Regions from separate parts of the Homo sapiens genome. Here region 1 is reported to be linked to region 2. The links are microRNA targets in miRTarBase. Many come from high-throughput screens and were not tested one by one. Region 2 holds a microRNA gene; the other region holds the end of a gene's coding sequence.
What was found. Region 2 holds the annotated microRNA hsa-miR-4633-3p (AGGAGCUAGCCAGGCAUAUGCA, at 2,608-2,629, shown strand). A microRNA usually pairs through its seed, bases 2 to 8, with sites in the 3' UTR of a target mRNA and lowers its output. Matches are read on the target gene's strand: a 7mer-m8 pairs with bases 2 to 8, a 7mer-A1 pairs with bases 2 to 7 and ends in A, and an 8mer does both.

Region 1: miRTarBase lists FEM1A as a target of hsa-miR-4633-3p. Seed matches in the 3' UTR shown: 7mer-m8 at 4,301-4,307.

What each region holds. Positions count from the first base shown.
Region 1 is chr19:4,793,240-4,797,575 of GRCh38, forward strand. It overlaps FEM1A (fem-1 homolog A), which reads left to right. Exons shown (of 1, transcript NM_018708.3): 1 at 1-4,336. The coding sequence ends at 625. Among named protein-coding and RNA genes, the nearest start is that of FEM1A, 3.7 kb to the left of the region's middle. RefSeq lists an enhancer at 1-119.
Region 2 is chr5:129,095,130-129,099,522 of GRCh38, forward strand. MIR4633 (microRNA 4633) reads left to right here and starts at 2,559; the gene lies at 2,559-2,637. All of the region lies in intron 1 of ISOC1 (isochorismatase domain containing 1), which reads left to right. LOC124901060 (a long non-coding RNA gene) reads right to left here and starts at 1,650. Exons shown (of 2, transcript XR_007058926.1): 1 at 1,420-1,650; 2 at 1-270. RefSeq lists a silencer at 1-17.

The DNA.
Region 1 (4,336 bases), not on the chromosome of region 2:
AGACCTCATGGGGGTTCTCACCAAAGGGGTCCGGGAAGTGGAACGGGCCCTGCAGCTGCCCAGGGAGCCCGGAGACTCAGCCCAGTTCACCAAGGCGCTGGCCATCATCCTCCACCTGCTCTACCTGCTGGAGAAAGTGGAGTGCACCCCCAGCCAGGAGCACCTGAAGCACCAGACCGTCTACCGCCTGCTCAAGTGCGCGCCCAGGGGCAAGAACGGCTTCACCCCTCTGCACATGGCTGTGGACAAGGACACCACAAACGTGGGCCGCTATCCCGTGGGCAGATTCCCCTCCCTGCACGTGGTCAAAGTGCTGCTCGACTGCGGGGCCGACCCGGACAGCAGGGATTTTGACAACAACACCCCGCTACACATAGCAGCCCAGAACAACTGCCCGGCCATCATGAATGCCCTGATCGAAGCAGGGGCCCACATGGACGCCACCAATGCCTTCAAGAAGACGGCCTACGAGCTGCTGGACGAGAAGCTGCTGGCCAGGGGTACCATGCAGCCCTTCAACTACGTGACCCTGCAGTGCCTTGCGGCCCGGGCCCTGGATAAGAACAAGATCCCTTACAAGGGCTTCATCCCGGAAGATCTGGAGGCGTTCATCGAACTGCACTGACCTGCCCAGAACGCCTGCACCCTCACCTCTCCCCTCTCCTGCTGAGATGGGGGAAATCCGGCTGCGGCATAGCAGATGCTCGTTCTTGCCTCCTTCAGGCACCAATCAGGAGAAGGGTTCTGCCTCCCATCCCCTCTACCTGCAGACAGGGTCGGAGGTGTTAGCGAGCCTTTGGTGCTAGAAGCCTGCGGGGTCATGTGCTAAGAGGACAGTCTTTCTCCGGGAGCCCGCTCACTCATTCTGAGTTAGGAAAAGACACAAGACCTTCCCCACATCCTGTCTGCCTGGGTTAGGGAGGCCTTTGCCTTGTTACCTAGAGGCGGAGGGACTGAAGCCATTGCGTTCCTTCCCTGCTAGAAACACAGGAAGAAGTTGAGGACTGTCTGCCTTCCCTCGTCCCTTTACCTGGCCAGATAACTCCAGCCGCTGAATACAGTGTTAGGACTGGGGGCTCCTGAGATGAGAGTTTGAGATTCAGGGAATGAGACCACCTCTCATTTCTTCCAGCATGATCGCGCCCTGCTCCCGTGCCACCGTAGTCCCTGGCAGACAGGCAGGGCTCTGCCCAGGGCAGCCTGCCACTTGCATAGCTTTCGGTTGGTTTGGTGTTCTGTTTATTTAATAAGTGGGCAGGTTGCAAGCGTTGCACAGAAATTCTGAGATTTTACTGCCTTTTTTTTTTTTTTTAAGAAAGTTGTTTGTTGGACTCCATAAGTGAATTTCAAGCAGTGAGGATTTTGTGGTGCCTGAGATGGCCGAGGGCACAGGGAGTGAGCTGTATGTGTGAGGAATTTGGTGAGCGAGATAAAAGTCCACGGTGTCAACCCCTAAAACATGGGTGACCGTACATTTTTATACATCTCCACTCTACGGCCTTTTACAGGCTTTCCGATTTTACAGGCCTTTCCAAGTTTCCATTCTCCTTAGAGAGAGAACTGTGCTTCCAAACAGAAATCAGGAGTGACCACAAAGCCTGAAAACACTTTGCCACCCAGCAAAGAACTGGCACAATTGGTTTGGGTCTGCATTGCCATAGTGCCCGAGTTAAAACTGCAGGCCACTCTGCCTTGCAGTGGCCTCTGATTTCATTGTGGGTGCATCCACAGGTGGCCCGAGCTGTTCTTTCAGCTGCTCCAAGGATTGAGACCCAAGTCATCATGAAAAAGGCCCAAGTACAGTCTTAATGCGATAAATCCACTAGCTAAGACGTCGAGTGCCAAGACCAGCCTTCCAGCCGAGGTTTGGACAAAGTCTCAGGTTCCCGTGACTCAGGGTAAGGTGCTGGGGCTGCCAGAGGACCTGCCCCAGCAAGATTTTTGTCAAGAGCGAGACTCCATCAGCCCAGGCAGACGGGAGCAGGTTCTTGGCCAGCGTAGACAGCAGCAAACAGCAGCAGGGAAGCCATTCTCACTGCATCCTCCCTGCAGTAGCCACGGCCAGGCCCTTAGGAGGAGCAGTGACCGGGGGTGTCCAGAAATATCCTGTCCCTGGATGGAAACTAGGTCTCGTTTGGATTTTTTTTTTTTTTTGCCGTGTTAGGAAATTATTTATTAATTTACAAGACAGGTTTTAACTCAGCCGAGGTGGGAAATGGTGTCCCTGTCCCTCCCAAAGCACAGAGCACAGAAATGAGGCCGTTTACATGGCGAGTCTCCGTGCTGGTGTTTAAGTCATTAAAAAGATACTCAAAGAGAATGGCCTGCCTGATGCGTCCTTGGCGTGGGTTAACTGGGGAAGTCGGAGGTGGGTGAGTCAGTCCATGGCATTGGTGTGAGTGAACAGAGAGCCCTAGGGCCACCTCCCCTAGCCAGAGGGGTTTCTGTGTTACATACTGGGGCTTTTTTTTTTTTTTTGAGACAGAGTCTCACCCTGTCCCCCAGGCTGGAGTGCAATGGCGCGATCTCAGCTCACTGCAACCTCTGCCTCCTGGGTTCAAACAATTCTGCTTCAGCCTCCTGAGTAGCTGAGATTACAGGCACCTGCCACTATGCCCAGCTAATTTTTGTATTTTCTGTAGAGGCAGGTTTTGCCATGTTGGCCAGGCTGGTCTCAAACTCCTGAACTCAAGCGATCCTCCCACCTCAGCCTCCCAAAGTGCTGGAATTACAAGCATGAACCACTGCACCTGGCCTCTATGTTACATACTGGGGCTTTGTGTAAAATTTCATTTGAAAAACAGTATGTTGCTCTTTGAAAAAAAGCCTGGGCAACATAGTGAGAGCCTGTCTTTACAAAAATAAAAAATAGGCTGGGTACGGTGGCTCACATCTGTAATCTCAGCACCTTGGGAAGCCTGGGCAACATAGTAAGACCTCTGTCTCTACATTTTTTTTTTTTTTTTTTTTGAGATGGAGTCTTGCTCTGTCACCCAGGCTGGAGTGCAGTGACGCCATCTCGGCTCACTGCAACCGCTGCCTCCCGGGTTCAAGTGATTCTCCTGCCTCAGCCTCCTGAGCATCTGGGACTACAGGCATACACCACCATGCCTGGCTAATTGTGTATTTTTAGCAGAGACGGGGTTTCACCATATTGGCCATGCTGGTCTCAAACTCCTGACCTTGTGATCCACTCGCCTCGGCCTCCTAAAGTGCTGGGATTATAGGTGTGAGCCACCACGCCTGGCCCTTTTTTGTTTTCCTTTATCTGCCATCTCATCTCACCTCCTTGTGTAAACTTGTTCCATTCTAAAATTCTGGTTTTCTCCATATCAGAACAGTCAAACCCCCACCAGAAAGCACCACCCCGTTAGCTGGGTCCATGGGATTTTGCTGAGCCCCTGCCATGTGCCAGGCAGGTTTCAGGCCCCCTTGGGGATAAGGATTGAGCTGTCGATATGAACGTCCGGTTAATCCCTGTGCGCCCGCCTCACGTGGCAGTGGGGAGAGGCCCTGCTGTGGGGCACCGCATGCTGCTTCCATGGTGCATTGGGTTGGAGGGCTCTTCTCCCGAGGGTGGGTGTCTCCCATCTCTTGCCTTCACACACCTGCTGTCTTGTTTCATTTGGGACTGGACAGTCCCACAGGTGACAGCTGTTGGGCTGTTGTATGCCTGTTTGGTGTTGCATCAAAGGAGTGGGTTTGAATCAGCAGGTGCTCTCAAAGCTGTCTCCTGGGAGACACAGTACTAGTGAGCATTTATTGAGCACCTACTGTATGCCAGGCACCATTTTCTGTGGTTAAATGCACTGCCTGTTTACACAACAGCCCTCTAAAGGAGGAAAAACATATCAGAGTCCCATGGATGGAAGAAAAATAATGAAGTAGGAAAAACGGCCCTCTTAAGATGAAGGTCATCTTTTTTTTTTTTTTTTTTTTTTTTTGAGACGGAGTCTCTGTCGCTCAGGCTGGAGTGCAGTGGTGTGATCTCGGCTCACTGCAAGCTCAGCCTCCCGGGTTCACACCATTCTCCTGCCTCAGCCTCCCGAGTAGCTGGGACTACAGGCACCTGCCACCATGCCCGGCTAATTTTTTGTATTTTTAGTAGAGATGGGGTTTCACCGTGTTAGGATAGTCTTGATCTCCTGACCTCATGATCCGCCCACCTCGGCCTCCCAAAGTGCTGGGATTACAGGCATGAGCCACCGCACCCGACCAGATGAAGGCCATCTTAAAGCTCAACCAGTTTCAGGTGAGGGCTGATCCAGCAGATCCCAATTATTCCTAAAGACCTGGTTGATAGCTCCCTTGAGACTGGGGTGGGGTGGGTGTCCCA
Region 2 (4,393 bases):
GTCCCTGTCCCCGCCTTCGCCGCGCTCCTCAGGTGCCCCGAGCCGCCCGGGACCCGGGCCCTGCGCGAGTGGCTGAGTCCGAAGGGCTGCGCGTCTTTCGCAAGTTCCGGGGCCGGCTGGGGAATGCCCCTGTCCAAAGGTGATGGTCACCAGCTGTCCCCGGCGGGGGCGTGGGCCTCGTAGCTGGTTTCAGCGCCCGCGAACGCCCCCACGTGTGTGGTCCTCGGTCGCCCGCATCCGCTTTTTATGCCAGGATCAGGTCCCAGCCTCCTGCGTAACCAAAGGGCTGTGCTGTAGTAGCTGTTTTTATTTTGGGGTGATGGGTGATGCAGAATGGGGGGAAATGAGATTGTGGGGAGTATTGGTCTTAGGGTTTGTTCCTAGAGTTGTGTTAACCACTTGCGGAAACGCAAACTTTGGGAGTCAAACCCATTCCCCCCCGCCTTCCCAGGCTCTCAGGTCCTTGGGCTTAAGAGTTCCCTAACCTTAAGCAAATAACCATTTGCTTAGCCTCCTCTTAGTAAAGTGTCTACTGACTTGATTACGTTTTGTCGTCTGCATTGAAAAAGTCATTTGACTCCATGATTGTAATTCCTTCTTGAATACAAATACCCAACTTAAGCTAGACCTTGAGTTCCTGGGCCTGCTGGCTGGGAAAGTTGTTCTACCTGAGGACTACTTAACAGCATTTATTTTAAGCTGTGCTCTCATGCTAGGCGGGTTAATCTTCCGCCCTCTTTAGGATCAGATTGTTCACTGGCGAATTTATATTTTGGAAAGGAAAGAATATAAGGTATAATTTAGGTAGTACACTGTCGATATCATTTCTTTAGCTGAGAAACTGATAAGTCATTTTTTCAGAAGACCAAACTGAAATGTGGGATTCGGGGATAAAAGGTATTTTAATATTTAAGTGTCATTTTCTTTCTTTTTTGTTTTTAGTTTTTATGGGCACATAATAGTTGTACATATTTATAGGAGACGTGATATTTTGATTCAAGCATACAGTGTAGTGATCAAATCAGGGTAATTGGAATATCCATTACCTGAAACATTTATCATTTATTTCTTTGTTCCAAATTCATTTTTGTAGTTATTTTGAAATATACAATAAATTATTGTTAACTATAGTCACGCTATTGTGCTACTGAACACTAGAGCTTATTCCTATTATCTGTGTTTTTTGTACCCATTAACAGTGCCATTTTCTGAGGATTATTCCCTAGTTTTTTTCCGCTGTAGTTGGCAGCTGAATTGATGATGTTTCCTGTCACCCCAACACCTGTGCCAGAAGTGTCCAAAGCAGGTACTTTAGCTTCGATAAAGTTCCTGCATTCAGAGGACAAAGTCAGAGACTGCACTCTCTGCCAGTGGAGAACCTGGAACTGGATACAGTGATCTGATACCCCAGAATCTTACCTGCTGCTCAGATAGGGAATTGCAGTTCTTAGGTGCTTAAGACTCCTCATTTTTATGTCTTCAAGCGTTTTCGTGTCTGACACCTCTCTGCAGCCTTCCTTGTCAGTCCTTTTACGTTACTGCTGCCAGAATACTCAGATGTTGGATGCACCTTTGAGAAGTCCATTTATAAAGGCTAGAATCCAAATACTAACTGCGGAGGTCTGGGACTAAGGATGCAGACTTCTTTATGAAGCATTTCCTGTTACGGCTTGGAGGGAGGCTGGGCTCTTATCTAAGATAATGCTATTCTAAACTAGGCCCCAGCTCTGTAAGAGTCCCCGCCTTCCAAGATAGGATTTTTATATTTGAAAATTTCAGGGCCTTGGTCTGGCAACTCTTAAAAACATTCTAGAAATTAATGAAATGTATGTACCTGAAAACGCTTGTACATTCTCAAAAGGCGTTATATAATTCTGGTCACCTGTAGCTTTTGCAGTGTTTTGCTTGGTATAGGAGATTATGTATAGTTCACTTTTTTTTGGTGAGGTTTAAAATAACAATAGCATTACTCTACTCCCTCTTCAGAAGAAATTTTTCCGCCAACTAGTCTAATAATTCTTAAGCATTAGTTATATTTTTGCATTTATATAGCTTTATATTTTTAATTCTTTAAAAATATTTTCTCTTCTATATTATCTCATTTTAGTAGTTATACTTTGACTTCTTCAGCCTGATGCCTCTCCTAGCTTAGAGGTAGATAAAGGAAGGGGATAGATACATAAATATGCACACACTGTGTATCGTATATACCTTCTGATACCGATTTATGTCTATATGAGAAGAGAGAGATATATATACACACATACATATATATGCATATGTGTGTATAATCTCAGAAAGTCATGATATTTCTCATGACTACTGTACACTATATTCTTTGGAACCTAACAGCATAATCCTAGAGACTTGGATGTTTTATGGCTGTAAGAGACCATACAGTTCATTCCACAACATGTGAGTGGCAGCTTTAAATGCCTGGCACAGTGAATGCAAACTTGGATTCAATTCTTGTTCCTTACCTAATAAATGAACTTTCACTTTGAGGAAGTGCAGAAGAACATAGGGAGGTGGAGGTGAGTAACTTGCTGCAGGTTACATGGCAAGTCTCCGCATATGCCTGGCTAGCTCCTCCACAAATGCGTGTGGAGGAGCTAGCCAGGCATATGCAGAGCGTCACTTACAGCCGAACACAGCACTACTGCTTGCATGTTTAATGAGAATTGAGCAGTCTGGAAAACAAGTCACAAACTTGAGCTCTTGTTTGTTCATTTGTCTTGGTGCTGCTCCTTGTTCTTTGGAATAAATGCTTGTCACTTAGGAAGACTCAAGGTGGCCTATCGGTGAGTCCATGTTACTGGGGATGGTTGGCCCCTTCTTGAAGGCAGGGACAAAGAGCACAAGTTTGGCCACATGTAGTTCATTGCGTAAATAGTGATTTATTATTTCTCCACACTTGGGCCCTGGAGCCTCTGTGGCCCTGGCTCACGTACTGTTAGTCTAGAATGTATTCTTCATTTGCGCCGTGGTATGAGTTGCCTTCGTGCTTATTCTGACAGCTGTGGCTGATGACCTTGTGAAACACAGTGGCTGCCTTTGCCACACTGCACCCGTGCTTGTTAGTGGTTCTATGAGAACTGATCTTTAAGACCCCCCATTGCCAGTATTAGGCTGTGGTAAGTTTTTGGTGACTTCTTTTCTTAAATATTCTGTCAAAGTAACAATGTCTGCCGACAGCTCAGGTAGATGAAGGCATAGCTCATGTTTCATGCTTGGTTTGTATGTCTGCAGCTTTGCCAAATGCTTGAGATCTGATGAATTTTGAGACACGGGAAAGAATATAAATGAGAGGATTATGTAGTGGGGATTTACGTCATTTTTATGACTTAAAAGTTTTAATTTTTCAAAAGGTATTTTGTAAGTTTTAGGTAAAGGAAACATTTAACTATGGAAATTTACATAAATGTTGTATCATGCTACCACCAGTGCATTTTCCAGCCTGTGGCCAGGAAAGACAGAGCCTGCAGAGAAGAGAGGAGGAAATGGACAGTGTAAGAAGGATGCCAGTGAGGGGATTTTACTTCTGTACATAGCAGGGAAGGCTTTGGCAGCTTTCTGTGGCCAGAAGATAAGGGCGTTCCAGGGAAGGTTATTTTGACCTTTTCCCAAGATGGTTAACTGGCAGGGCATTTTGCTCCAGCTTTCATTTTCTTGGAAGTTTATTACTATTATTATTATTTTAAACAGGGGCATGAACATTTTATAGCTAGAAGAGACTGACAGGTTCATGGTGGGAAGGGAGGGAAGGCAGGAGGAAAGGAACCTTGTTCGCCTTTGGCTTGATAGTTTGAAGGTAGTGGTTTTTGATTACAAAACCTTTGCCTCAGGAGCGTGGCAGGAAGAGGGGGTAGATGAGCTAATGCTCAGAGAGGAGACAGCTGGATCCTGAGGTGGTTGTATTGTCTCTACCCCATTGGTTTGATGTGTGTCACTTAAAAAAAAATTAACATTCCAGAATAATACCTAAAGCATTGTATCCTTTTTTGCTCCTTCTGAATACATTAGAGCTACCTATAAATAAACTGTGTTTGAGAGTAGGAGCTATGATCTGAATTTTGAATTTTTTTTCTTGCATTTAGCTAACCAAGGGAATCCCAATGTAGATTCAAATGTCATTGTGGTCCTGGGCTTGTCTAGCTTCACCTTCACCCCAGTCTGAGGCACAGTCTTAAGAAATCCTTCAGTCCTCACCCCTGGGGTGGGTGGAGACAGCTGGCGTCCCTTGGGGATTTAGAAAACTCATACCTTAACTGATAAGCTAGGGTTGTAACCTTATGCCAGTGACATCAATGTTCACAATAGGTGAATATGTTGTAAAAATAAGAGCCAATAAGTATTATTTCACAGCCTAAATTAAAAAGTCCCTGATCTGTTT